Linked DNA regions of Homo sapiens. The protein of the gene in region 3 interacts with the protein of the main gene of each other region in a pairwise test. Each region holds a gene or a part of one and is shown on either strand. Other genes may lie near its edges.

What was found.
Region 1: the proteins of SPMIP6 (region 3) and KCTD9 interact in binary tests that used the Homo sapiens proteins (3 or more experiments, as listed by UniProt).
Region 2: the proteins of SPMIP6 (region 3) and CDR2L interact in binary tests that used the Homo sapiens proteins (3 or more experiments, as listed by UniProt).
Region 4: the proteins of SPMIP6 (region 3) and COL8A1 interact in binary tests that used the Homo sapiens proteins (3 or more experiments, as listed by UniProt).

What each region holds. Positions count from the first base shown.
Region 1 is NC_000008.11:25,434,419-25,441,444, forward strand, and holds part of KCTD9 (BTB/POZ domain-containing protein KCTD9), read right to left. Parts: intron 6,256-7,026; coding exon 6,159-6,255; intron 5,375-6,158; exon of another isoform or gene 5,247-5,374; coding exon 5,188-5,246; intron 4,990-5,187; coding exon 4,861-4,989; intron 2,068-4,860; coding exon 2,000-2,067; intron 1,913-1,999; coding exon 1,817-1,912; intron 1,095-1,816; coding exon 945-1,094; intron 1-944. UniProt on the Homo sapiens protein: Substrate-specific adapter of a BCR (BTB-CUL3-RBX1) E3 ubiquitin-protein ligase complex, which mediates the ubiquitination of target proteins, leading to their degradation by the proteasome.
Region 2 is NC_000017.11:74,983,763-74,990,640, forward strand, and holds the start of CDR2L (cerebellar degeneration-related protein 2-like), read left to right. Parts: upstream 1-3,869; 5' UTR 3,870-4,281; coding exon 4,282-4,360; intron 4,361-6,878.
Region 3 is NC_000009.12:34,394,797-34,402,138, forward strand, and holds the start of SPMIP6 (sperm microtubule inner protein 6), read right to left. Parts: upstream 3,015-7,342; 5' UTR 2,838-3,014; coding exon 2,703-2,837; intron 1,539-2,702; exon of another isoform or gene 1-1,538. Other genes in the region: protein FAM219A, read right to left, coding at 6,168-6,326, 6,870-6,924. UniProt on the Homo sapiens protein: May participate in intramanchette transport and midpiece formation of the sperm tail. May play a potential role in somatic cell proliferation.
Region 4 is NC_000003.12:99,788,589-99,795,614, reverse strand, and holds part of COL8A1 (collagen alpha-1(VIII) chain precursor), read right to left. Parts: intron 4,936-7,026; 5' UTR 4,933-4,935; coding exon 4,605-4,932; intron 1,386-4,604; coding exon 1-1,385. UniProt on the Homo sapiens protein: Macromolecular component of the subendothelium. Major component of the Descemet's membrane (basement membrane) of corneal endothelial cells. Also a component of the endothelia of blood vessels.

The DNA.
Region 1 (7,026 bases), on a different chromosome or scaffold from region 3:
TCAAAGCGTTTTTGACAAACATCTTTTTTTTTTTGTCCTTAACACAAACAAAGATGCCTCTCGACATTTCACTATTTAAAGATTAGGTCCTTCAAACGTTTTTTTGATGTTAGTCTTTTTCCTGTTTTGCTACTAACCTGACCCTTCATGATAAGACAGAATAAAGGACAGTGAAAGTAACTAAAATGCATATTTGGTAGATTTTGTTACTCGCCCTGATACACAGCTTCATGGAAAAATAAGCTGCAGCTAATGAGTAAAACCCAAATTAGAGTAATTCAATAAATGACTACCAAAAGCAAGATGGTATTAATTCAAAAGACATACAGACACGGGCCTTGGTGGTAAGGAACTTAAAGTTGTTAAAAATTAATAGATTTCATTGTTGGTCTGCATATATCCTCTAACTTCAAATAAACACAGATAACTGTTATAAATACATACATATACATATATATAAATATACACATATATGTAGAGAGAGGGAAAACGCCACTGAGATGTTAACTTCCACAAACTGATGCATACCATGTTTATTTCAAAATATCTGTCAAATACTTCTTGAGCAGTAACATTTTCCCATTCCAGAAATGAGGCTGAATAGATTTCAAGGTTCCTTTCAGCTTTACCTTTACAATTAGCTGAAAATATGAGTCCTGATAAATAAAGTACAGTATATTGAGGAGATCAAGAACTAATTCCAAGATTTAATTTCTTATTAGTTACTAAACCTTTCAAGTCTATGTTTAATAAAGGATATCAAACCTGTAAAACCAAATTCATTTCACTTTCAGACCTTTAGTCTTATATCAACATAATAAATTATCTGTTTTCAAGTAAAAGCTCCAGTAAAAGATAGTTATAATTCCTGTCTCAAAGGCTCTTTGAGACTGTTCAATAGACTAAACATTTAATTTTCTCTTGTAGCCTAAAATGATACTTACGTCAAGCACTGATCCAGAGAGATCAGCTCGTTCAAGATTTGCACAGCAAAGATTTGCATGTGCAAGATTACAGCGGCTTAAATTGGCCATTTTGAAGTTAATGTATCGAAGGTCCAAACGAGAAAGATCAGCACCACTGAAGTTCAAACCCTGAAATAAAAAAGCACAAATTGTCACCATAACTAAATCGTCTGTTTGTATTAAATTTAATTACTATAGCTAACCACCAAGTTTTTTTTAGAAGCAATTGGCAGTTCAGTCACTTGGAGTTTATTACAGAACATGATAAAATGGAACTTAGATACATAAAAGAAGTGTCCTTAAATAGGTTCCTCATAAAAGAAACTCTATCAATATATACATTAGAATATAGCCCGGCTATAATTCATTTCTGTGTAGAAGCTTCTAAAGAGGGATCCCTGTTAGTCCTATACCTGCTAATAAGTATTTAAACCTAATTATATTTAAATTATTTTATTAATTCAGTAATTCAAAACAGTTTATTAGGCAAAAATGAGTACTGTGGTCTTTACAATTTGAAATGCTATAGTACACATAAGTAAAGTACCTGCCACTGATCAGCCCATATATTGCAAATGTACAAATACTGACTTTTAAAAAACTGCTGCAATTTCTATGCATTATTCATAAACTGTTGCATGAGGTATAATTAGACAATTTAAAAAGGCTATTATTGCATCTCTTTTTCGTTAACCATTTCAGAACTAAATCAATGCTATGACTCATAATTAAATTAGATCTTGCATGTAAAAGAAAAACAAAGCAAGATAATCCCAAAACACTAGAAGAATGTAAAATTTTATTCATAGATTTGCTGATAGAAATAATTGATGTAAAAGCCTGCTAATTACCTGGCATCGCAGTTCTGACTTGGTTGGAGTTGCTAGCAAAAATCGGACAAATTCCTTTCGGGATATTGGTGAATGATCCTCCGGTGGTTGAGAATTCTTAAAAAAGACATTAAGAAATTAGTGGAGTCTTTTGGGAGATAGCTACAATGAATGTAACACTGGCTAATGTAAAAACAGGCTTACCTTTATTGCCACTTCTAGGTGTTCAATCAATGAGTCAATACCAAAAAATCTTGCTTCTTCTAACACACCTATCAGAACAAAAATAATTCTGAAACAACCTAATTTAGTGAATGTATTACATTCATTTTGAATTTACTAAAATACGATTAGTTCACATAATCTTAACATTTAATTGCCTTTTTAAATGGAGCAGATCTGAACAGGTTTGCCACAAGTATCTTTTACATACTGAATCAGAAAATGATAGAAATGAATAAAAGTTTAAAAAGTACAAAAAAGTCAAAAGTATAATTCAGAAATCTGTCTTATAGGAGAATAAATTTTAAAATATTTGTAAATACTAAAAGAGCTTTCATTTATCATTTACTTTAACTTGGTAAAAAAAAATGTACATCCTTTACATGACTTGGTATATTTACTTATTCTAATCTGTTAATAAACATCATCAGAATGTGTGGGAATACATTTGGGTTCCATTATCTTTCAAATGAGAAGACCTCAATCAGTTGGCTGTTGACTCAGTAAAAAACTACTTAGAACTCTGGAATTACAAAGAAAGTATCAGACATAATCCCTCCCTTCAAACACTTACAAGCTAATAAGGGTAAGTAGATACAGAAAACCAGAAGCAGTTATTTGGGAAGAATAATACAATCTTTTCTGTGAAGACCAAACTCTATGGTCAACAATCCAATTGTAAAACAAACGTCATCCAAGGTACAGCATCGGGCTACCACTCTGGCATACAGGGTCCACATTTCCCCTTCAAGAGGCATCCAAAGATTATGCCATTCCGTTCGGATATATATCCCTGGTGGAAACTCAACATATTATAAAAGAGGTTCTTGTGGGCCACGCTCTCAATTTGCCAAGGTCTAAGTAAAGCAGAACTCTTAGGGAATGCAGCCAGGATACGTTTCCAATTCTAGGTTTAGAATTAAACCTTTAAAACATCCAGAGAAGCCATAGAAATACAAAAGACAGGCCGGGCTCACACCTGTAATCCCAGCACTTTGGGAGGCTGAGGTGGGTAGATCACTTGAGGTCAGGAGTTCGAGACCAGCCTGGCCAACACATGGTGAAACCCTGTCTCTACTAAAAATACAAAAAATTAGCCAGGCGTGGTGGCAGGTGCCTGTAGTCCCAGCTACTCGGGAAGCTGAGGCAGGAGAATGGCGTGAATCCAGGAGGCGGACCTTACAGTGAGCCGAGATCGCGCCACTGCACTCCAGCCTGGGTGACACAGCAAGACTCCATCTCAAAACAAAAAAAATACAAATATTAGCTGGGCATCATGGTGTGTGCCTGTAATCCCATCTACTTGGGAAGTTGAGGCAGGAGAATCACTTGAACCCAGGAGGCATAGGTTGCAGTGAGCAGAGATCACACCATTGCACTCCAGCCTGGGTGACAGAGCGAGACCCTGTCTCAAAAAAAAAAAAAAAAAAAAAAAAAAAAAAAAAATCTGGATTTGAATCCCAGCTCTGCCACTCACTACTTTTTGGTGTTAGTGAAATTACTGTAGATTGTTTTAAAGCATATAATTACTTGGGGCAACCTGTAGGCAATGTAAAGAGTTTGGATGGAAACTGTACTAACTGAAAACAATGCTTTATAAAATGAATCCAGCAGAGAGCTCTGCTTTTTGAACACTTGAACAAATAAATGGTTGAGAAACATGAAAAAGAAAAAACTAGCAAATCTTGGTAATAGCTTGGTTTGCAGATGTGTGACACAGCATGGATAAATATATTTCTGACATTTTCTAGGCAAGTGGGATACAAAATGCTATCAATAATTTGAAGAAAAATTAAAATGGGAGAAATAGAAAGCAACAAGAATTTAGTTATAAAGTTATAGAACTAGCTAAAAGGGTCAAATAATATCTTTTTTTTTTTTTTTTGCAATAGGTACATGTTCAAGGGAATATAAAGTTTGTTATAGCAACACTAAAAGTTAATGGGTGTTTTGTATTTCACTACAGAAACTGTAAGCCAGCAGTCCTCAGGCTGATTCTGATGTGTTCAGCATGTAATGTTTTCAAAACAAAAACATGTCACATAAAATTTTAGATACCCAGGTTTTCTTTAAAAACCAAGGTTCTGGCACTCTACGTCTGACCACTTTGCACATGGCAATGATCTGCTGAAGCTGACAGGCATGTGACCTCAAGATTGCCAACTGCCTACCATTCCTCAAGTACTAACATCACATCAACTTCAGTCACTTGGAGGCCTATTAGCTTCCAAATATGCAACCAGTGTTTTATAAGGGCTTTGTCTACATCACCTCCGTGAATCTTCACAAAAATCTTGTGATGTAGATAGGGTCAAGAGTGCTTTTAACACTCATTTTTCCAATATGACTCAGAGAAATTTCCCCAAGTTAGTCTCCCTAAGTTAGCAAGTTGTAGAATCAAGACTCTAATTGAGAATTATGATTGCAAGGCATGATTTGCCCTCTTGACTACTCTAGTTCTCACATAATGTGGGGAATATCCAGAACTTGGAGCCAAGTTACATTCTTAATTCAATTTTTAAAAAAGGAAACAACAAAATCCTTTAAAGTCACTTGTGATAGAACGTAAATCAATTTAGAATATAAAGTTGATGCGTATGGCTTACATATTTAGCTATATGTACAAAGACTATCTACCTGAAGGACCACCTGCCCGTGCCTAAATCTATTTCTACACCTATATCACTCATATACATGTGAAAACATCTAGTTTAAAAAATAGAAAAAATATATACTTTTACTTTATGGAAATATACTGTTACTGAGTGAAACAAAGTTAAAATCTTAAACTTACAAAAATGTGAGTAGTTACATAATTATATTGAAAGTCTAAATAAACTCACCCAATAAATTAATGCCATCATTTACAATGAGCTGTCCATGACGCAAGTAGTTCAAAATGGGTTCGAAGTACTCAGGACTTCGGTCAATTAAGAAAGCTCCTCTATGATCTTGCTTATTTCCCCAGACACCTGTGTCACCATTATAATAAAGAAAGTCCCCCATAAACAAAAAATAAAGTCAGAAATGTATGAGGAAAAAATTGCTAAATATAAGTTTTTACTCTTAAAAACTGACATAATTAGTAAGTACAGAAGGTCAGGAGTTATAAAGTCAGCACAGATATAAAACAGGTAAGATGAAATGTGAAAACAACGTGTTACACTCACCTTTGTCCTTAAACATGTGGGCCAGCATACTGTCAGGTTCTTTATTCACTAAAGTGCTCCTAAGAATTCAGGGAAAAAAATTGATTTCTCCATTTGTCTTTATAAACAAACATATTTAAGTCAAGAGTATACTCGATCCCAGCTGCTCTCTCAAAAAGATGCATGCTACAACCTGGTAGGAGTAACGCTGGGAAACAAAAACGTGCAGTAAGTTGCCATTTATCAGATCCCTTCTAATAGGGTACTTCCTTTGATTTAAACATTGTTTTAGTTTCCTTTGCTTTAAATACTTGTCTGTCTATCCTGTAAGCAAATTATTACATAATAATATTCTTGATCTTCCAAACTTACATTTTTCTGCCCTTTAATAAAAGCAGTTGTAGTCTCCACAAATTTCAGTAGTGTTAATTTTTACTTATATTGTGTGTTTATTACTCAATATCTAAAAAGCATGTTTTTTTTTTTTTTTTTGAGAAGGAGTCTCACTCTGTCACCCAGGCTGGAGTGCAGTGGCAGGATCTCGGCTCACTGCAAGCTCCGCCTCCCGGGTTCACGCCATTCTCCTGCCTCAGCCTCCCAAGTAGCTGGGACTACAGGCGCCCGCCACTACGCCCGGCTAATTTTTTGTATTTTTAGTAGAGACGGGGTTTCACCATTTTAGCCGGGATGGTCTCGATCTCCTGACCTCGTGATCCGCCCGCCTCGGCCTCCCAAAGTGCTGGGATTACAGGCGTGAGCCACCGCGCCCAGCCAAAAGCATGTTCTAAAACACTGAAGTGATGCCTTTTATGCTTTCTCTGGAGTGAACCATGTTTTTTTCTTCAAAAAAAGTTATAAAAAATGGTTTCAGATCACATAGTATATTTAAGCAGCATTTGAGTATCTTTTAAGGAAATCAGCAAATTGAAGAACAAAGGGTACACAGTGCTTCTTTTGCATTCTCTTTCTAACACACATACACACACACCTACCGTGTAGTTGTAAAGTACCGCCCTCCAACATTTAATGTCAGCCAGTCTGTGTGGAATCCTAACAATCCCTCAGGAGGCTTAGAATCTGTCTGAGGATCTAGAGATGACATGTAGAAAATAATACAAATATTAAGATTGGGGATTCTGGGAAGATGGTAATGGCATAATTTTTTAAACTGAATACACACATAATAAAAGCATACCAGAGCTACTAGGACAGCAATACCCAAACCCACAGACTGCATCTAAAACAACACTAGGTGATAAGGTAGTCCCACCAATACCAACAGCTATAAGAGCAGCATGCTTTCAGCGCCTGTGAAAGAAAAAGCAGAGAGAAGCAACAGGGTATATGATGAACCCATGAATGTTAAAGCCATCCATAGATACTGACTTCATTGCTTAATAAGTCTAGCTGAAAACAACAGATTGAGATCATCCCAAAAGTGGGTGATGCAAGTAGTTTGCAGTAAGATCTTATAGGGCTGAAAATAAACTCTTAAAACCAAATGGCCAAAACTCCCTTCCATGGACAAAGCCCCATACTGATAAGATGCTGGGAAAATAATCCAAGTTGAATGCAACAAAGACAACAGAGACAAAAAAAAAAAAGGACTGCAGATGAAAGTTAAGAGGTTTAATAGACCAGAATATATCAGAAAATGAGTTCTGTGTATTTTAAACACTTCACAAAAACAACAGAAAAGGGAACTCTAGAGCCATGAAATTGGAAAAACTGTCCTGTCAGCCCTCTTTTCAAGTTAAGAAAAACTAATTTCATATAAAAATGAGCAATACAAAAAGACTGATCAAATGTTAATACAAAAGTGTTAAAATAATAATTGTCCTTATAGATAATGAAAACATG
Region 2 (6,878 bases), on a different chromosome or scaffold from region 3:
AGGATCACTTGAGCCCAGGACTTTGAGGTTACAGTGAACTATGATTATGACACTACACCCCAGCCTGGGATCCCATCTCAAAAATAAGTTTAAAAAATTTTAGAAAAAGATTCCCAGCCACTTAGAATTCTCCACATGCCTTCCCAAAGCCAAACACTATCTTGATTCATTTTGCCAGTTTTTAACTTTATTATTATTTATATTTTATAGAGACAGAGGGTGGCTGTGATGCCCAGGCTCGTCTCAAACTCATGGCCTCTAGTGATCCTCTTGCCTCACCCTTCCGAGTAGCTGGGATTCCAGACACATGAACTTTATTTTTATTTTTATTTTTTGAGACAGAGTCTCGCTCTGTCACCCAGACTGGAGTGCAGTGGCGCAATCTCGGCTCACTGCAAGCTCCACCTACCCAGTTCACGCCATTCGCCTGCCTCAGCCTCCTGAGTAGCTGGGACTACAGGTGCCTGCCACCACGCCCAGCTAATTTATTTTTTATTTTTTTAGTAGAGTCGGGGTTTCACCGTGTTAGCCAGAATGGTCTCGATCTCCTGACCTCGTGATCTGCCTGCCTCGGCCTCCCAAAGTGCTGGGATTACAGGCGTGAGCCACTGCACCTGGCCATGAACTTTATATAAAATGGAATCATGCAGTGCTGTGATAGAATCATAACCACTAAAGATATCCACATCCTAACCCCCAGAATCTCTGAATATGTTACCTTGCCCAACATAAGGGACTTTGCAGATGTGATTTAGTTAAAGACATTGAGACAGGGAGATTATGCTGTATTATTCAGTGTGCCCAGTTTAAGCAGAAGAGTCCTTTATAAGAGGGAGGTGGAAAAGGTAAGAGTGATGGGATGTGAAAAAGACTCCACCTTCTGTTGCTGACTTTGAAGATTGACAAAGAGGCCATGAGCCAAGGACTATGGGGTGGCCTCTAGAAGGTGCAAAAGACAAGGAAACAGATACTCCCCTGGAACCTCCAGAAGGAACACAGCTTCTACCAATGCTTTGACTTTAGCCAGTGATCCTTGTCAGACTTCTACAGAATTATAAAATAATAAATTTGTGTTGTTTCAAGCCCATTAAATTTGGGGTCATTTGTTACAGAAGCAATAAGAGACAAATACAGGTATTTACTCTTTGTGTCTGGCATCTTTCACTCAACTTTTTTTTTTTAGCCCAAGCCCATGACAGTAGATCATTGTATTTGTACTATATAACATTCCATTACATGAACATGCCACATATTCTTCGTCAACTGTTGATGGACATTTGTGTTGTTTCCAGTGTGGGCGCTTATGAATACTGTGGCTATGAACTTTCTTGTACATGTCTTTGGGATAAGGTATGTGCATATTTCTCTTGCACATATATAGGAATAGAATTTCTGGGTTATAGGGTATGCATGTATAGTGGCTGCTGTGATGTATCCCCAACTCTTTCAGAACGAAAGGACCTATTCCCTTAGCTGCTGGGAGGACCCCTGGCTGGCAGTCCCAGCTGCCAGGGCTCTGTGCAAACTAGTCTCAGCTGAAAAGAACTTATTTGGCCAAGGTCACACATGCCTCCTAGGAACGACCTGTGTCATTCAATGACTGGTTGATATGTAAGGGTGGGGGATATAAAGGCCCCCTCCCCCAATGATACCTGGAATAGCTTTGAAGGGTCACCCTGGATTCAAAGTTCTTCAGGGATCAGAGGAGGCTTTTGCAGAGGCTACATACCAACCCAGCTTCTCCCCCACCAACCCTGCTTCCCTCCCTTTCCTGCAGGTGTTGATCATGAGAGCACTCCCTAGTCAACTTTCTTTCTTTTTTCTCCCTCTAATCCAATATGATTGATATCCCTAATCAACTTCCTGCATGCTAATCTCCATCTCAGGATCAGCTGCCTGGGAACACAACCTACAACAGCTTACGTTATTCAGCTTTCATGGTTATCAAGCAGTCTTTTTTTTTTTTTTTTCCAAGACGCAGTCTTGCTCTATCGCCCAGGCTGGGTGCAGTGGCGCAATCTCAGCTCACTGCAACTTCCGCCTCCCAGGTTCAAGCAATTCTCCTGCCTCAGCCTCCCAAGTAGCTAGGACTACAGGCATGTGCCACCATGCCCAGCTAATTTTGTATTTTTAGTAGAGACAGGGTTTCACCATGTTTCCCAGGCTGGTCTTGAACTCCTGACCTCAAGCGATCCACCCTCCTTGGCCTTCCAAAGCGTTGGGAATTACAGGCATGAGCCACCACGCCCGGGCAGTTTTCTAAAGTGGTTGTCGTCCTATGTATTCCCTCCAGCAGGGTGAGAGAGTTCCAGTTGCTCAACATTCTTGCCAATACTAGGTATTTTTTGTCTTTTTTTTTTTTTTTTTTTTTTTTTTTTTGAGACAGGATCTTGCTCTGTCACCCAGGCTGGAGTGCAGTGGCATGACCACAGCTCCCTACAGCCTCAACCTCCTAGACTCAAGCAATTCTCCCACCTCAGCCTCCCAAAGTATCTGGGACTACAGCCGTGTGTCATTATGCCCACCTAATTTTTATTTTTAAATTTTTTTATAGAAATAGGATCTTGCTATGTTGCCCAGGCTGCTCTTGAACTCCAGGCTCAAGTGATCCTCCCAACCTCGGCCTCCCCAGAGTTCTGGGATTATAGGCATGAACCACCACGCCTGGCCTTTTTTTTTTTTTTTTTTTTCCCTAAAGCCACTCTGGTGATTGGGTAGTGATACCTCATTGTGGTTTTCATTTGCATTTTTCTGATGGCTAAAGAAGTTCAGTACCTTGTTGCATATTTATTCAGTTATTTGTGTATCCTTTTTTGTGAATTACCTGGTCAAATCTTTTACCCACTTTTCTACTGGGTTGCGTGCCTTTTTCTTATGACTATGCAGATGTTCTTTCTGTATTCTGGATACAAGTCATTCGTTGGGTATATCACAACATTATTCAGAGATTCTCAACGGCACCAGCACATTAGGGTCCCAATAAAAATGAGTTACGTGAATGCTTGAGTCCGAACACTCTTCTAAGGAAAGAATGCTTGGACAGATGCAAGTGTGTATAGTTTTAATGGGTATAATTGGATATAGGATATGGGTCCCAAGGAAAGGAAAACAGAACCTTGAATGCAGGTAACACACCCTCAAACTTTGCCACTTTCAGCCTGTGGTTTCTAGCCACAAGCACTTAAACACGCAGTTCCCAAAGGCAACTGTAAATTAGTATTCATTCATTCAAAGAATGTCGATGGAAGGTATCAATGACCAGCATGTTGTTTGTTTTTTGTTTGTTTGTTTTTTGAGGCAGAGTCTCCCTCTGTCGCCCAGGCTGGAGTGCAGTGGCGCTATCTTGGCTCACTGCAACCTCTGCCTCCAGGGTTCAAGCGATTCTCCTGCCTCAGCCTCCCGAGTAGGCATGCGCCACCATGCCCAGCTAATTTTTGTATTTTTAATGGAGACGGGGTTTCGCCATGTTGGCCAGGCTGGTCTCGAAACCCCTGACCTCAGGCGATCTGCCCGCCTTGGCCTCCCAAGGTGCTGGAATTACAGGAGTCAGGCATCGCGCCCGACTGGTGAGCAGCCTGTTCTAGGAAGTGAGTAGCCAGCTGTGAAAGAGAAACAATATTCTTGCTTCCAGGAGATCTAGGAGAGACGACAACTTCTAAAATAGCATAATTTTAGACATGAGACATAAACTGAATAGGTCGTAGGGGGAAGTAGGACGAAAGGGTTGATCAAGCAATTCCCAGACCAAGACACCAGGAGGGTCCCGCCCTCGGCCCCGCCTCCAGCTTTGCATACATCTCCTGATTGGTCGGCGGCGGCAGGCCCCACCCCGCGGAGCCGAGCTCCGCAAGCTGCAGGCGGGCTCCGCCAAGATGCAGCGGCGGCTCCGGTTGTCGCCGGGCGGGCCAGGAGCAGCGCGGACCCGAGCCGGGCAGGGGGCGCCCGCCACGGCACCCGCGCGCTCCTAGCGCCCCAGACCCGCCTGCGGGCCCGGATCCTCCTTGCCACTGTCCCACCCGCCGTCCCTGCCACTCCACCCTTTGTGTCGCCGCAGCCCGGTGCCCCCGGCTCTGCGGGACCCCGGCCGGGCCGGACCCTGGCAAAGCGCCAGGCCCCGCGTGGGCTCCCGGCGAGCGGTTGATGGCGAGGGGGCGCGGCGCGGGCTCTGTAGCCCGAGTTCCCGACGCTGGAGGCCCGGCCCGCCTCAGCCGCATTGTCCCGGGCCGCGCGCACCGGCCCTGAGCTGCGCCGCCGCAGCACCCGCCCGCCGCCCGCGGGGCCATGCGGAGAGCCGCCGGGATGGAGGACTTCTCCGCGGAGGAAGAGGAGTCCTGGTACGACCAGCAGGACCTGGAGCAGGGTGAGCGCGGGGGCGACCGGGACAGGAAGGCGGGGAGCGCCCGGTGACCCCTGTCCGCTTCTCCATTGTTGGGCGCTATCACCCCGGGAGGGGCTGGGCTGGACCGGGCGCGCCCGACTCGGAGGAGGGACGCGTCTGGAGAACCGGGACGTGGAGAGAGGGGGCGCTGCCGGAGAAGACGCGGACCGGACGGGCGGAGACCTGCAAAAGTGGGGGGCGGGGGGCGGTCTTCCTATTTTCCCAGACGACCGGGCATCCGTCATCCAGCTCGCCCACCCCGTCCTGGAGGCAGCAACTGCTCGGCCGCCCCTGGTATTGTTACGGGGCCTGAGCGCTAGCTAGGAGTCTTCTGAGGCCGGGAGGCGGCTCCTTCGTCATGTTTTGCTGGGAGGGTGGCTTGTGTGTAGAGGGAAGTTATCTCACGCCAAATCCAGCAGCACCCGTCCCTGACAGGAATTATGAGCTCTAAGACTCCTAGAAAGTTTCCCTAACTCGCTTCCTACTCAGGGAGAAGTGGTACCGCGTCTTTGCTGGTGAAGAAGCAGAAAGTCAAGTCTCCCATCTGCCTTCGAGAGTCAGGAGTCGCTTAGCCCTCCCCTGCCCGGTCCCCTTGCAAATGGCTCATGGTTTGGAGGGGGTCAGGTTCGGGAATCCCGGCCAGTGTGCCAGGCGAGAGACCGAATAAAGAGGGATACATCTCCGCTGCCCCCAGTTGCCATCTGAGGACAGAAAGGGCGACTGGAAGGGGGTTAGAAGCTGGTGATGAGGTGGCCGAAATGACATCACTGGGAGTGGGGGGTGGGGCTGTTGGGACAGAAAGGAAGAGGAGGCCTGCTGGAGTGGAGTCAGTTCTATCCTCTCCTCCCCTAAGATGCCTCCTTCTTGGATGGTGAGAGCTGGAAGGGGCGAGGAAACATGTCCAGGGAGAAGTGACCTTCCCATGGCCTCCAGCAAGCTGGGGGGTGTGGACATAAGTCTGCTGCAGTTTGTGCCATTGTGGCCTGCTGTGGTGTGCCCACACCCTGGTCTCCATCCACAAGGCTCCAGAGGGCTGGCTTTGCCCTGATGTGCAGCAGCTATCCGGATTCTGAAGCCCCTGACCTACTTCCCCACATGGCCAAGACTGGCTGGCAGATGAGGCTCTGTCCTTGTGCTGAGGACAAGGGTTAATCATAGCCTCAGGGGGACCAGGGTGGGACTGGGGATGCTGGACTAGGCCCTGCCATGGTCTGTGCCCTGGACTCTGGCCTCAGCCTCCTTGGCTGAAATGAGATACAGCTCCTCTCAAACACACACACACACACACACACACACACACACACACATCCACACATTGTGACAACCCCCTCTCCCATCCTGGGCAGTAAATTTTTCCATGAACACCTATTAGGCTCCCCTTAAGTACCAGACACCATCCTGGGAGCTAGGAATAGTCACAGCCCTGACCCTGAAGGTATACCCTGGCAGGTGAAGGAGGCAGGCTTGTAACTAAGTGTAGGTGGCACAGTATTTTTTTCTTTTTTCTTTTTATTTATTTATTTATTTATTTTCAGACAGAGTCTCCCTCTGTCACCCAGGTTGGAGTGTAATGGTGCGATCTCAGCTCACTGCAACCTCCATCTCCCGGGTTCAAGTGATTCTCCTGCCTCAGCCTCCTGAGTAGCTGGGACCACACCTGGCTAATTTTTGTATTTTTAGTAGAGACAGGGTTTCACCATGTTGGCCAGGCTGCTCTCAAACTCCTGACCTCAGATGATCCACCCGCCTTGGCCTCCCGAAGTGCTGGGATTACAGGCGTGAGCCACCACGCCCGGCTGGTGGCACAGTATTATGGGCAGTGGGGAGGGCTTCCTGGAAGAGCCAGGCTTAGAAAGAAAGATCAGAAACTGAGTTCTTGAGAAGATGGTTTTCAGGGAGGCCGATGCCAATATTGTTGCTGTCTCACTTAATTCCTGCACCCCTAATGAAGGCTTTGGCACTGTTCCTGGCCCAGAAATGGGAAAGGAGCCAGGGCATAGAGGTGGGAGATGCGCAGAGATGTGCAGCTTCTTGAGAGAGAGAAGGATCTGAGACTCCAGCTGCGCTGGGTGGCCGTGCTCTGGGCTGCCGGGAGGGATGGGCCCGGCAGGCCTCTGCTTCTCTGGCCCTGCTGGTCTGCAGCTGTTGGCCTGGCCTGGCAGCTCCAATGGTAGCCAAAGGCCAGGAACCAGGAGGGAAAGCAGAAATGAGACAGAATAAACTGGAGCTTCCTGCCAAAAGCTGGATGTCTGCTTACTGTGGGCCAGGTACTGTGCTGAGCCTGAGGACATAATCTCTGCCCTCAGAGGACTCCACGTTACATTAGAGAAGACAGAAATAGGACCAAACTCACAATGGCGTCAGAGTGAGGGGTTCTGCAGCTGTAGGCCCAGCAACGGGGACAGCAGAGACTTAGAAAGGTTTATGCCAAGGCCCTTTTGAGCTGGAGGCTCCCCAGGAGAGGGAGGGAAGAAGGCATTCCAGGGGGAAGCGATGCTTG
Region 3 (7,342 bases):
TCCTCAGGACAATCCTGTCTTCTTAACTATACTTACCACTCATCTCCATGAGACTCCAACACAAAATAAAAATTAATTTTTATTCAGAACTTAAGTTGTTTTGAAGCAACAGGGCCCTTCAGAGTTTCTAGACCACCATACTGCCAAAAGCAGCAGCTTTTCCTTCATTCTTTTTTTTTTTTTTTAAGAGACAGGGCCTCGCTCTGTCATCCAGGCTGGAGTAAAGTGGTGTGATCAAGGCTCACTGCAGCCTCAACCTCCTGGGCTCAAGTGATTCTATCTCAGCCTCCCGAGTAGCTGGGACTATGGGCACATGCCACTGCACCTGGCTAATCTTTGTATTTTTGGTAGAGACAGGATTTCACCATGATGCCCAGGCTGGTCTTGAACTCGTAGGCTCAAGCAATCTTCCTGTCTGCTTCAACCTCCCAAAGTGCTTGGATTACTGGCCTGAGACACCATGCCTGGCTTTTCCTTCATTCTTAATACCACTGCTATCTGACTTTCACTCCTCGCCATTCATTGAAGCTGTCTGGCTAAGTTACCAAGAGTTACTACATCCGAGAGATTTCTCTGTCACTAACACTTGACACTGATCTTTGTCTAATAATGCTGTCTTTATTGGTTTATCTTTGATTTTCCTCCTAGTTCTCTGGCAATAATTCTCTGTCTTCTTTTATGGCTTTTTTTCCTTTACCTACCCTTAAATATTTATATTCTCCAAAGTTATGTCCTTGGCCATTTTCTCTCTCTTCTTTGGCAATTTCATCTCTTCCTATGACTTCACCCACCATTTATATGATGATGACTTCAAGATCTCTATCTATAACCCAGACCTCTTTCCTTTGCTTCAGATAAGTATATCTAACTACTTGCCAAACATCTTTTCCTGGATATCCTCAAATATTTTTGTTCTCAAATGAACTCCAAATCTCTAATCTGTTATTCCAAACCTCAGTTGATAGCATTAGCATTCCTCCAGCTGCCACAGCCAAAAACTCAAGGGTCACCCTAATCTCTCACCTTACCATCCATATGGTGACCAAAATCTGTTCATCTACTTTTTAAAATTCCCTTCTATTGAGTATGGAGTCAGGCACTCTCATATTTTGCTTGTGGAAATGTAAATTGTTACAACCCTTACTTATTATGGCAATTTGAGGTATATAGCAAAAGTTTTAAAAATGTGTATATCTTTTCTCCTAACAATTTCATGTCTAGTAATTTATCCTAAGGGAATAATTGGAAATGTGTACAAAGATACATGTATAAGAATGATTATACTAGCAAAATTTTATAAAGTACCTAAATTTTCAATAAGATTCCTTAAATACACCATTTTGTAATAAATTTTATTTATTTTTATAATAAACAATATTTGCTTCCTGAAAGGGCATACGATAATATATTAACAATGGTAATTTTAGGTAGTAGGATTTTAGACCTTTTTTCTTTGTGCTTCTCTGAGTTATCTGCATTTTCTACATTCAGCGTATATTTATTTTGGAGTTAGACAAAATAAATTATTTTAAAAATTCTCTCCTATTCAACGAATTCCTTTTTTCATTGTGACAATCTCCTTATCTCCCACCTACATCCTCCTTCCTCATCTGTTCACCCCTCGCTGGCCTTCCTGCCCTCAACCCCAGCCCCTGCAATTCCCTGACACTGTGGCCAGAGTGGCCTAACTCACAATTGAACCATGACTCTCCCTCCCAGGTTCAAAAACCTGGAGCCTTATGTCCACGCTCCACAACATAGCCAGAGAGGCCCTTCTTGGTCTGCAGACTCCTCTCTCACCCAAGGACTAAACTCTCCTGCTCTAACAGTTTCAGTTTCTGGTAGGTCCCTGCCCACAGGCTGCCTTTTCTCCTGACTGTCTTCTGCTGGAAGCCTCCTCCTCCTGGATCCCTCAGTAGGTCTGCCCTTCAGGTTGGGCAGCGCTCTCCCCTTTCTGGCTCTCCACCTCTGCTGGTGCATGTTCCACATCGGGCAACTCTACTTTGTTCACTTGTTTGCTGTGAGCTCCTCAAAGGCAAGGGCTGGCCCTTCCCTTTTGTATCCTGGGTTGCCTACAGATGAAGATACTCAGCAAAGTTGGATGGTACACACAGATAAATTCTCTTAGGCAGAGTCACAGTTAGACTCACAGATTTCCTCCCACCTGGCCACCAATCTTCAAGCACAGACACAAGTAAACTGTGATACATATAGATAAAGGCATGCATATAGGACAGTTTCCGGCCTATTCCACAGGCAGCCTCAGGGCCTTTGCACTTTGTGATCACTTGTCTGGAACTTTCAGCTCTTCTATTCTTTCAGGTCTTCATGTGGCTAGTTCTATCTCATCTTTCCAGTCTCAGTTTATTGTCACCTTGAGAGAGGGTTTTCCATGACCTAAGTAGCCCTCCCTTTCCATTTCCACTTCCACTACTCTGTTTATTTCCTTTACAGTATTTTTGAAGAATTTATAAAACTCATGTTTATTTCTTATTATCTGCCTGTTCCTACCTCCTACCCTAATGTAATTCCATGAAGGCAGGATTTTGTGCTGTTTTACATACCATTGTAAATTCTGTGCCTAGGTAAATGAATAAAACACACACATACACAAAGCTACAAATCATTACAAACATACATTGCCAGGCATCCAGACTGGCCATACACTCTGGCCTGCCCCTCCCCACCAATCTCCCACTTACCGGAGTCAGAAACTTGTTGGCTTCCCAGGCACACAGGGGTGGGTCCTTATAGACCTCCTTGATGGAGGTGGGAGCCCTGTAGGAGTCACTGTAGGTACTGATAGGGGTCCTGGTCTTACGGGAGAACAGGAACATGGTGTGGTCTTGGAGATGCCGTGGTGGGCTCTACCTGTCAAGGGCTCCTGCTGGACATCAGTGACCACCCTTCCCCTAGACAGGCCACACCTCCAGCCTGGCAGGTGCCCTTAGCTGCTATAATCCCCTCCTGCAGAGGATCTCTCAGCTTCCTTCCCCAACAGCCTTCCTGCTCCCACCCCACACTGATGCCCCCTCCAGGATGGGCACTGCCCATTGTGATATCACCTGGCTCAGCCCCATCCCTGGGAAGGTGAGGAGGTCTAATTCCCTCCCTGCTCCTGACCCCCTCCTGCCTCAAGCCTATCAAAAGAGCCCAATTTCTAAGAGTTCAGAGGGCCTCTGGAGATCTTCTAGGTCAGGTTTCTCACTGTTGAAGAGAAACAGAGGTTCGGAGGGGTTGTGACTCACCCAGGGTCATGCAGCAGGTCAGTGGCATGCCTGGGAACCCACAGGTGGAGGTGGAGTAACATGTGTGCCCAGAGGACCAGTTCTGTCTGCTTCCCAGCCCATCTGCCCCTTGCCCACACCCCAGGGAGGGAGCTGAGGCTGGCTTGTTTGATGCTTTTAATATCATTATTTGTGTTACACGATACACAACCAAGGATGATGGTCAATACTGCAATGAAAATGTTAAAAAAAATATTATACACGGCTCATGTCTTCCACACACCTTCCTGGAAATAAATTAGTGAGCACGGAGAAACCTGGCTGGGTGGCAGCCACAGCTGAGAGAGGAGGGAGTGTTAAGGCAGTATCTACAAGGGGAAGGGTGGCAGGAGGGCAAGCTAAGGCCTAGATTCTTCCCTCCAACCTCCCAGACAGGGAAGGAGGGAGCCACACCCCTCCCTAGACACAGAAGCTGCCACTGCCAGCTTCCTGCCTCTCTCTGCCACACATGCACTGCCTCAGTTGGAAGCCCTTGCCTGCCAGGGAACTAGTATGTCCTGTGGGGGGGGAGATTTTCCCTGGTGTCTCAGGGCCACAGAGATTGAACAATGGGCCCGAGTCACACTGCAAGTCAGCAGCAAAGGCAGCAGTCTAAATGAGCCCCCAAAAAGAGGAGGTACCCATGTTCTAGAAAGGTGAGCCAAGGAGCCCCGGGGTGGTGGTGGTGGTAGTGGGAGGGCTGGCTCTGGGGTCCAGATGATGGGGGCACAGGGGTTGGGGGGATGTTGATCTGGGTGGGAGAGGTGGGTTCAGATGGGGGCCAGTATGGGCCTTGTGGGTCCTGCAGGTACCTTCTCTGTCCTTGCCTCCCTTTGTTTGGCATTTTCTCATCATCTAACTTGGGTCCCTGCACTAGAGGAGGTAGGAATGGGTTGGCGGAGTGGGGGGTGGTGAGCTGTACCCCAATATTTTGGAGCTGGCAGTTCCTGGGTATGATGCAGGGAGAGGTACCACCCTTCCTAAGCCAACAGTCTCACTCCCTCCTCTCATTGCTCCCCATTCCAGCTCCCACCTCCCAGGATTGGTGTCCAGAGAGTGGGCTGTGGGTGAGTCTACTGCATGCCTGCAGCATGTGAGTGGATCCATGGGAGTGGATCCACCAGCACATGTGGGGTGTTAGCATGAGATGATCCACCTGGGCCTGTGCTATAAGGTATGTGGGCACAGGCCTGTGCAGTCTTAGGCTATCTGTGCTTTCATTTTTCTTCACACGGTGGCAGGTCTACACTGCCCAGCCCCAGGGGTGGGCCTTCCTCACCTCTTCCCTCTTGATTTTCAGTCTCAGCTTTCCAGTCCCCTCCCCCAAACCAGCAATAGCAGAAGCAGCTGTATACACATCTTGATCTACAGACACCCTATACAGCCACACACAATAGACAACCCTCCAACACACACACACATTCACAGACAAACACGTAATCCCAAACAGAGCCACATGTGCTCAGACATACACAGTCCTGATAGGAACTGCCCCTTCGCCTTTCTACAGAGACACACAACTCCGCCCCACCCCAACCTTTAGGTATACTGAGACACACAGAGATTGCCCCCTCCCCACCACAGAAATTTCTATGAAGAAACTCTTTCAGGTATAAAAGGATCTTCAACATAATTTCAGCTGCTGTTCATTTTCTAGTTGAGGAAACTGAAGACGAGAGAAAGCAAGTGGCTTGTTGAAGATCACAGGGAGGGGCCAGAGCTACAACCAGAACCCAGGCTTCTGACTCCCGGTCCAAGGCTGTCAGCCCATTGCACTGCTGAGCCGCCTTCTGCACTGTAAACAGACCACACAGGCACTTCCCTACCAGGGACACCCACATCTATGACAGGAATAGACTGAGGAGAGACAGGTCCAACAGAGACACACACCCACCCACCCCCTGACAGCCTCAGAGATACACACACATTCTGCTAAGCACTCCCTACCACATCCAAACAACCACATCCATAGAGCCACTCAGCCCACTGGATTCACCAAAGCTTGCTCCTGGATTCTTACTGGGAAGCAGCCTCCCACGTCTTGGGCTGGGGTGAGGGGAATGGGCCATTGGAGTCCAGCCTTACTCCCTGCTTCCAGGCTGGGATTGAGACCAATGAGCAGAAGCGTGGGTGAGGGTGGGGGCAGGGTGGGGTGGGCTGGTGGCAGACAGATAGATGCATTGGTGAGGGGCCAATTAGGACAGATCACACCACCCAAACCTCAGCCTGTCTGTAAGGCCCACCTTACCCTGCCCCACTCCCAGAGTGCAAGGAAGCGGGTGAATGGGGCAAGAGGAGGAAGAAGGCAGTGATCCGATGGGTGAGGGGCACTACCCGGTTGGGCAGCTTTGCCAGGCTTCCCATCTGAGGAGGGGGAAATGCAAATAGAAACATGGGCCGGTAGGGGGCGTGTGAAGGGGGCTCCGAGGTGCTGGGACCCGTCCCCACTGCCCTGGGCCTTTCTCCCTCCGAGCCCCTTTCCTGGTTAGGCTGAGGCCGGGGCTTGGGAGTTCATGGCTTCGCTGGGGTGGGGCCAAGCCCCTGGCTTTGTGATCCCCCCACTCGTTAATGTTGACCTCCCTGCCGTCCAGTCTTCTCTCTTGGCCAGCCCTGGGAAGCGGGGCAGGGTGCTGGGTGAGGTTCCCCCAGGTAACTGAACAAACGGCCCCCACCCCTCCTCAGCTCCCGGGTGGAGAGAGACCCAGTTTTGGTTTCTCCAGCTCCATGAACACACAGAGGTACACGTCCTACCATAGGAGGAAGCAATGACTGTTATACGAGGTTGGCGGCTGTAGGGGCGCGGGGCCGGGGGCAGGCAGACGAGCTGGGAAGGGGTCGGCCTCTGCCCGTCCTACCCGGCCCTTGGCGGCCCCGCCCCGGCGACCGCAGTGGCCCCGCCCGCTACTGAATGTGGCAGGCGGTGGAGGACGTGGCCTGGCAGCACATGCACGTGGGGTTCACGGACTTGGGGGGGATGAGGTCTAGGTCCTCGTCGTCGGGGATCTCATCTAACCGGTAGCCGTCCTTCAGCAGCTGGATGTTCAAATCTTGGTTGATCTGCTGTAGGCAAAGGGGAGGGAGGTCAGGCCCGAGCGGCAGGGAGGCACCACCCACAGCTCTGCGGCCACTCCAGGCCGTCTGCGCCCCAGTCCAGCCAGTGCCCTGGATATCAGCCCCGCCCTGTCCCGGGTCTGTCTGTACCCCCAGGCCCCGCTCCTGCCTAGGCGCCCTCCTTCGCCTCTGGCCTCTCTTTCTAGTCACCCCTCCCCATTCTATGGTCAACTTCACACCTCTGGTCCTGCTCCTATTCGGGTTTTGCCCCTATCTCAGGCCGGCTACTAGAGGATATCACCTGTATTTTACACCCATTCTATTTAAATGGCCTGCTGCAATCTAAAGCCCCACTCCTAACCCTGGGCTCCATGCACTTGAGGCCAGTAACCACTTCTCTTCCATCCTATCCCAGGCCCACCCTGTGCAGGGCACCACCCAGCCTTGCCCAGCCCTCTTTTTCCTTGTACTTGGGCATTGGCCCCAGCCCTCCCCCGGGATGGCAGTGATCCTGCCCGGTGGTGTCTAGGGTGAGAAGGGGTAGGGGCTCACCTCAGCAGAGGAGTAGCCGGAGGAGGAGTATCTAGACATGTCAAAGTCATCATCGCTGGCCATGGAGGAAAGAGAGGGAAAGTGATACCAAGAAATTACATAGAAAACTCTCTGCAATCCCACCTCCCATTAGGCAGCATCCTATACCTCCCTTACAGTTCCAAATAGCAAAATCTCAATACGAACTGTGCTTGCTGTGCAAATGCAGGATTTTAAAGACAAGTTCCCTAGCCCCACCCTTAAAATCAATTGCTATCCTTAACCTCCTTCTAAATATAGCAGTTACTCCTTTCACCCCCTTCTCATCTTTTTTTTTTTTTTTGTAGACTCAAATCACCCTGACTTGTAGGATATTCCCAAAGTCCAAGTCTAGCCAGGTGTTTTCCAGGGAGTAGGGCTCCTTCCTGAGGGGATGGGGCATTAAGCATCATATTCTGCTGTCCAGAGACAACATCACAGGCCAATTAGGGACA
Region 4 (7,026 bases), on a different chromosome or scaffold from region 3:
TGGGGGTCCTGGAGGTCCTGGAGGGCCTGGGGGTCCTGGAAGGCCAGGCTGGCCTTGAGGACCAAGGGCACCAGGCTTCCCTGGGGGGCCATGAAGTCCTGCCACTCCGGGTTTCCCTATACCAGGGAACCCAGGGGGCCCTGGGAGGCCCGGCTCCCCTTTGGGGCCTGGAATCCCAGGTGGTCCAATGGGGCCACTAGGGCCCCCAATCCCTGGGATACCTGGGGGGCCCTGTAAACCCTGATCCCCTGGGATTCCTGGCTCTCCCTTAGGTCCGAGAAGCCCTGGAACACCAGGGAGTCCTGGTACACCTTTTTGCCCAGCTTCCCCCTTGGGCCCTATGGGACCTGGCAAACCCCTCATGCCAGGAGGCCCTACTTCACCAAGGAAACCTGGCTTTCCTGGGAAGCCTTGAAGCCCTGGCTCACCCTTGGGACCTGGTGGCCCCTGTGGCCCTACAATCCCACCTTCTCCTTTGGGTCCAGGAAAACCAATAGCACCTGGAGGGCCCATAGGACCTGGGATTCCAGGCAGGCCTGGCTCTCCTGGAGGACCCCCTATTCCTGGGGCACCTATTGGTCCTTTCTCCCCTCTTGGTCCAAGAGCCCCAGGAACACCTCCCATGCCCCGGTCACCTTTGGGTCCTGGGAAGCCTGGTTTCCCAATCCCTGGAAGGCCTGGGGGTCCTGGTAGCCCTGGCAGTCCTTGCTCCCCTTTGCCACCTGGAAATCCTGGCTGGCCTGGGATCCCATCCTGGCCTGGCTTTCCAATTCCGGGTATCCCAGGAGGTCCTTGAACCCCCGGTACCCCAATAGGGCCTTGTGGCCCAGGTTCTCCTGGAGCCCCTGGCTTTCCCAGGGGGCCCTGGGGCCCAGGGAAGCCTGTCACTCCTGGTTTGCCCACTCCTGGCAGTCCAACAGGGCCGGGAGGGCCGTGCATCCCTGGAGGCCCCTTTACACCTGGCGCACCTGGCATCCCGAAGCCCTTGTCTCCTTTAGGACCCCGAAGGCCTTGAGGTCCTGGTAGTCCTTTGGGTCCTCGATCACCCTTTGGTCCTGGTTGCCCTGGTAACCCTGGCCCACCTGGCTTCCCAATGCCAGGAAGTCCATGAGGCCCTGGAGGTCCTTGTGGTCCTGGGATCCCCATAGGCCCAATTTCCCCTTTCTGTCCAATTTCTCCTTTTGCCCCAGGCATGCCCATGGCTCCTGGCTTCCCTGGCATTCCAGGCATACCTGGCTTTCCAACTCCTGGATATCCCTGTGGCCCTGGTTTTCCTTTAATTCCAGGTATCCCATGACCTGGCAAACCAGGGGGCCCAGGTGGTCCTCTTGGGCCAGGCTCTCCACGGGGACCTTGTTCCCCTCGTAAACTGGCTAATGGTATTTCTACTGGGAAGAGAAGAGAGAGAAGGGGTATGGGGGGAGAGAGAGAGATTGATTAGTAGATTGTCTCTCACATCAATGAAGTACTGACAACCATTATTTAGTTCTGACACATTTGCCTAATACTTATCAAGAGAAAAGACTAGGAATAATATGCTCATCTTCTAGACCTTAAAAATCAGGCCTGGCATGGTGGCTCGTGCCTGTAATCCTACAACTTTGGGAGGCCCAGGCAGATGCATCACCTGAAGTCAGGAGTTCGAGACCAGCTTGGCCAACACAGTGAAACCGCGTCTCTACTAAAAATACAAAAATTAGCCGGGTGTGGTGGCACATGCCTGTAGTCCCAGCTACTTGGGAGGCTGAGGCAGGAGAATCACTTGAACCCAGGAGGCAGAGGTTGCAGTGAGCTGAGATCACACCACTGCACTCCAGCCTGGGTGAAAGAGCGAAACTCCATCTCCAAAAGGAAAAAAATAAATAAATAAGAAAGAAAAATCAAGCTGACAATTTTTTTTTATGTATTTGAGGTATTTTTTTGATAACTGATATGTGAAGCTGCTTGTATCAACATTGGTTAAGTAAAGAAGCTAAAAAGTAATGAAGAAGAAACATTTTTCCAAGTATAAAACTTGGAGATATTATGGTGTGTTTATTATAGTGAATTTGGAAGATTCAAAGATGTATAAAGAAAAATCAAATTTGCCTATAAGCCCACTACTCAGAGATAACCACTTAACATGTATATATATTTTCATCTCATTTGTTCTATCTGTGTGTGTGTGTGTGTGTGTGTATTTTAAACAATATTGGAGTTGTTATCCAAATTATAGTTGTATTTTATTTATGGGGTACAAAGTGATACTATGATTCATGAATACAATGTGGAATAATTAAATCAAGCTAAATATATCTATCACTTCAAATACTTATTTTTATCTCGTGAGAAATTTGAAATTTACTCTTTCAGTGATTTTGAAGTGTGTAATACATTATTATTAACTATACTCGCTATTCTATGCAATAGATATCCAAAAAACAACTTATTTCTCCTGCCTAACTGAGGCTTTAAACCTTTCATCATCATCTCTCCATTCTCTCCCTCCTGCCCCACCCCAAGGCCTCTGGTAACCACCATTCTCCTCTGGGTTTCTATGAGTTCGATTGTTTTAGATTCCACATTTAAGAGAGAATATGCAGGATTTTTCTTCCTGTGCCTGGCAAAGTTTTTAAATATAATAATTTATGGCCAAGATATTTCCTCTTATGCTTAAATACAGTATGATGTGAAATAGGAAAGAATAGAGTTATTTTTTGTGTGGTTCAATAACATCTTTCCACATCTCTCCTTTAGAATTAGTAGATTTGCTTAATTTCTTGAAGGTGCTGTGGGATTTCCTAAGCCTCAAATATTAGTTCATTAATTTAACAAATAATTTCTCATATACAAATCTGGCTTTTAAGTAGGAGAGATGAATAAGATATTTTAGAATGATAAACAGTATGGATGAAGTCGAGAGCTTGACTTAGGAACAAGAAGCTCTGCTTATCTTTCTGGTCTTGGCGTGAGATTGTGACTGGGTCCCTTAAGCTGTCAGCATCTCTGCTTGCCTATCTGTACAGCAAGAATAAGAATAATACAGCCACACTACAAGATTAGAGAATAGATGTGAAAGGTGTCACCGTTTCTCAAATTGTTATTGAAATACACAGCACGTGCTGTTATAATGAACATGCTGTGCCTTTCAGATGAACACAACTCTGGATCTCCCATGCTGCTGGGACTAATGGATAACATGGAGAAATGAAATATATGGTCCCAATATCTTCTTGGCATAATACTTATGTCACTAGTAGCACCTTAATCCTGACCATTGTACTTTTTGCTGAGCTACTGTCAGAGAATAAAATACAAACAGAGAACTCATTTCGAGATATGAGGATCCATCAGAGTAAGTACAAGAAGTGCCAAAGGCAAGGCAAGCCATTCAATAAAGGAAGGAAAAGAAATGTCTGAGATAATCTTCTAAGTATAATACTAGCTCCTAAAGAGAAGAAAGTCAGGAATACTTTCTTTACATGAATAGATATGATTATAGTACTATTCAGGCATGCTATTTCTAACCAGCGAATTGTGTAGTTACTGTATTGAGGAGTTATCTGGGGAAGAGTAGGAGAGATGAATCAGGAATCCCTGGTGTCTAGCACAGAGCCTGGAACACACTCTGTTCTTACTGAGGATTTGTTGAATGAGCAGTTGTAGCAACTCCAATTTCCTATGGTGCTTTAGCATTTACTCAGCACTTTACTTACTATGTATGTCACTGATTCTCTCAACAATCTTATTTTACAAATGAAGAAAAATAGGCTCTGAAAGGTCAAATGACTAGGTCTCTCTCATTTCTGGCATCCAGGCATCTAGGCCTCTAAGTTCCAAATCCAGTAGTTCTCCAGAGGTGGAGCTTCCTGCCATTGTAGGGACTAGTGGGACTGGCTCCACTTCCTCAAAGGTAATTGCTGCTCTGATGCAGCAAGTACTAGGTTTCTGAGAACTCCAGACAAACCAAATGAATTTATCGTCAAGTGTCTGTCACACTGAGGGGCATTTTGTTGGTGCTAAATAAATACGCCAAGAAAGCAACAGGAGAGATTTTCAGGTGTCATCCCTAGATGCAGTCTATACTCTTAGTTTCCTTCTGTTGATCTATTGATTGACATATGTAATTAGAGTAGTATTAAGAACACTTGCACCTGTCTAATACTTAGTTCGCAAAATGCTTTCCTGTGACTTTTCTTTTAACACAGCAGGTCCTTACAACATTGCTCTCTTAGTTCAGAAGACTGACTTGTCACCTTTCTTTTTTTTCACTGCTTTAGCTCCCAGCATCTGGCCCAGAGCCTGACACAAATAGGTGCTCACTATAGATAGTTGCTGAATGTTTGAATAAATAAACAATAAGGGGATAGACTATTTGTGATTTAATATATTTTATTTCATCTGATGCTAGTTAAAATAATAAAGCAAAACATAAATGGTAGTCTTATCTGTGTCTTTAAGGCTTGAAGTTTTCAAGAATATGGTTAGAACACAGTAGGCATTTTAAAAATGCCAGTAACAAATTCTAAAACTAAAGCTTCTAAAATTTATCTTCCCCCTCTGATCCCATAATTTAGAGATTTGGAAAGCTGTTGTTTTATAACAGCCTGGGAGTATGATGTTACCTTTGCCTTTCTTGGGTACGGCTTCCTTGCCCATTCTTGGCGCCGGTTGAATTTCCTTCATATATTGGGGTAGGTGTGGATACTCTTTGCCATACTGCAAGTGGGGCATCTCCTTGCCCATGGCAAGGCCATCTTTGGCCAAAGGCATGTGAGGTACTTGCTGACCCAGGGGCTGGTATTGTGGAATTTGTGGTGGCATCTGAGGAGGAATTTGAGGTGGCAGCGGCTTGATCCCATAGTAGGCACCAGCCTGAATGAGCCTGATGGAACTCAGGGAAATGGTAAGCAGCACTCCCAGCAGCTGCAGAGGGCCAGGCAGCACAGCCATCACCTGTGGGAGGAACCAATGCACCAACTTGGTGAAACTCTGCAAGGCCAAGTGACTTGAGTTTATTTAGAGATAGAATGGGGAAAAAAAAGGGAAACAGTCTTTAACATCAGAACTTCATGATAGAAGTCAAATGAAAAGGAAAATGCTACTTTCTATAGAAAACAAACAAACAAAAAATAGAGAATAGTGGAATCTGTCAAATAAAGGCAATTGGTAGGAACATAGACTATGGGAGAGACTACTGGTTGTCCCCCATATCGATTCTGCCTTTCTTGCCCTGTTTTCCCGTCTTCACCTGGGAATAGAGCAGCCCAGAATGAAGACATTTCAGCCAGGCAGGGCCATTTCAGCCATTCTTGCCAATTGTGTATAGTTGTCATGGGTGTACCTTCCAGGAAGAATCCTAAAAAGGAGTGGATATGTCTTCCCCTTCCTCCTTCCTTCTGGCTGGATTGCTGATATGTTACTGGAAACAGACCACACATCTTGGACCATGAGGCGAATGCAGTGCACAGAGAATGATAAAACGAGCTAGAATAAACCTCAGTCCTGGTTAGGCTTTGTTAATAAGTGCCAAAATTATATTCTAAATGGAAACAGTTGATAATTTATAGGCTTTATGCTACAGTAGAGATTTTTCATCTGCCAGATGAGGGCTGCTTTGATGTAGTCACAAATAAATGTAAATGTAAAGAGCAAACAGGAACAAAGCCTGCAGAAGTCTTCTGAGTTGAAGAGAAAATGCTTCTTCATGTAATAGTATGAAATATTTTAAAAATCACTATCATAATTATGCACCTTTATTTCTTGTATTAAAATACTATGAATTCATTAGTTTAGAAATTGGTTAATTGGACCATTAAAGTCTATCTTTGTCCTTTTGTGAAAGAAAGTTTACAAAGCAAGAGTTGTATGAATAAGAGGGAGATGTTTAACTATTAATAAGAATACGCTGCTTCTAAGCCCATTAATAGCACTCTTTACAAATTAGCAGTAAACAGAATTAATATAAATGGGGCTTATCTGTTTATAAAAACCAGCTTGAAAAGACCTCTGTTTGGAAACGCCCTAGGCTTAAAACCAGACAGCCCAGAGAAGTGCATTGTTGGCAAATGCACACTAGAGGGCAAGTGTGATACACACTTAGGTCTGTTCAATATTCTGCCTGCCCACTCCCTGCCCTCTGTAGTTCTAATGCTGGGCATACACGAACTCCATGCTCACAATGTATAAAGGGACTTAATGAAAATTTGAATCTTAAGGGACATGTCATCATAATGCTGGAGAGAGAGAGAGAGAAGTGGCAAATTTCTCACAATTTTTAATGTAAGTATCTTCTGGAAAACTTTGAAGAAACTTCTGTCTGTAAATAATTCAATTTCCATCTTCTTGAGAGTTGTTTTCTTTGCTTTTGCCTTACTTAATTCTGGATCATAGTTTTCTACTTCTTAGAAAATGTGCGTTGATTTTGCAATATCCTATTCCAGGGTAATGCCAAGAGTGTATACAGGCTACAAAAGGATTGGTTAATAAAACACCTAATAAAATATTTAAAATGAATCCCTATCACAAAATTCAAGCTTTACAATCTTTCTAAATACACTAACAAATCATTTTTTCCCTGGAAAAAATGAAGAAACAGTTGCTAGGCCCATTTTGGATTACTAAGATGAATATAATATGGCTGGTGGGCCTTACCATCAAGGAGTTTGTACTCTTAGTGGGGGTGACAGATGTGTAAACTGTTATTGAGTAGCAAAGGATATCTAGTAAAAAGTAAATTTTCCTCCTACTTCTGTTCTCCAGTATCTAAAATCCCTTATGTTTGAAGCAACAATTTTTCCTCATATTTTTCAGATAGTCTGTGGATATGCACATATCATATACATCCCTTTCAAACATAAATTGCAGTATACTATACACACTTCTATTTTTTGCTTTTTTCACTCAAAGATCAGTACTTATTCCTTGTCTAGTTATGTGCATCTAAACAAATTTCTTTAAGTTCTTCATTTATTAAAATATGACTTGGATGTTCCCTTAAGTCTTTTCTAGCTCTAACATTCAATGTCTGTAAGACAGTTACTAGAG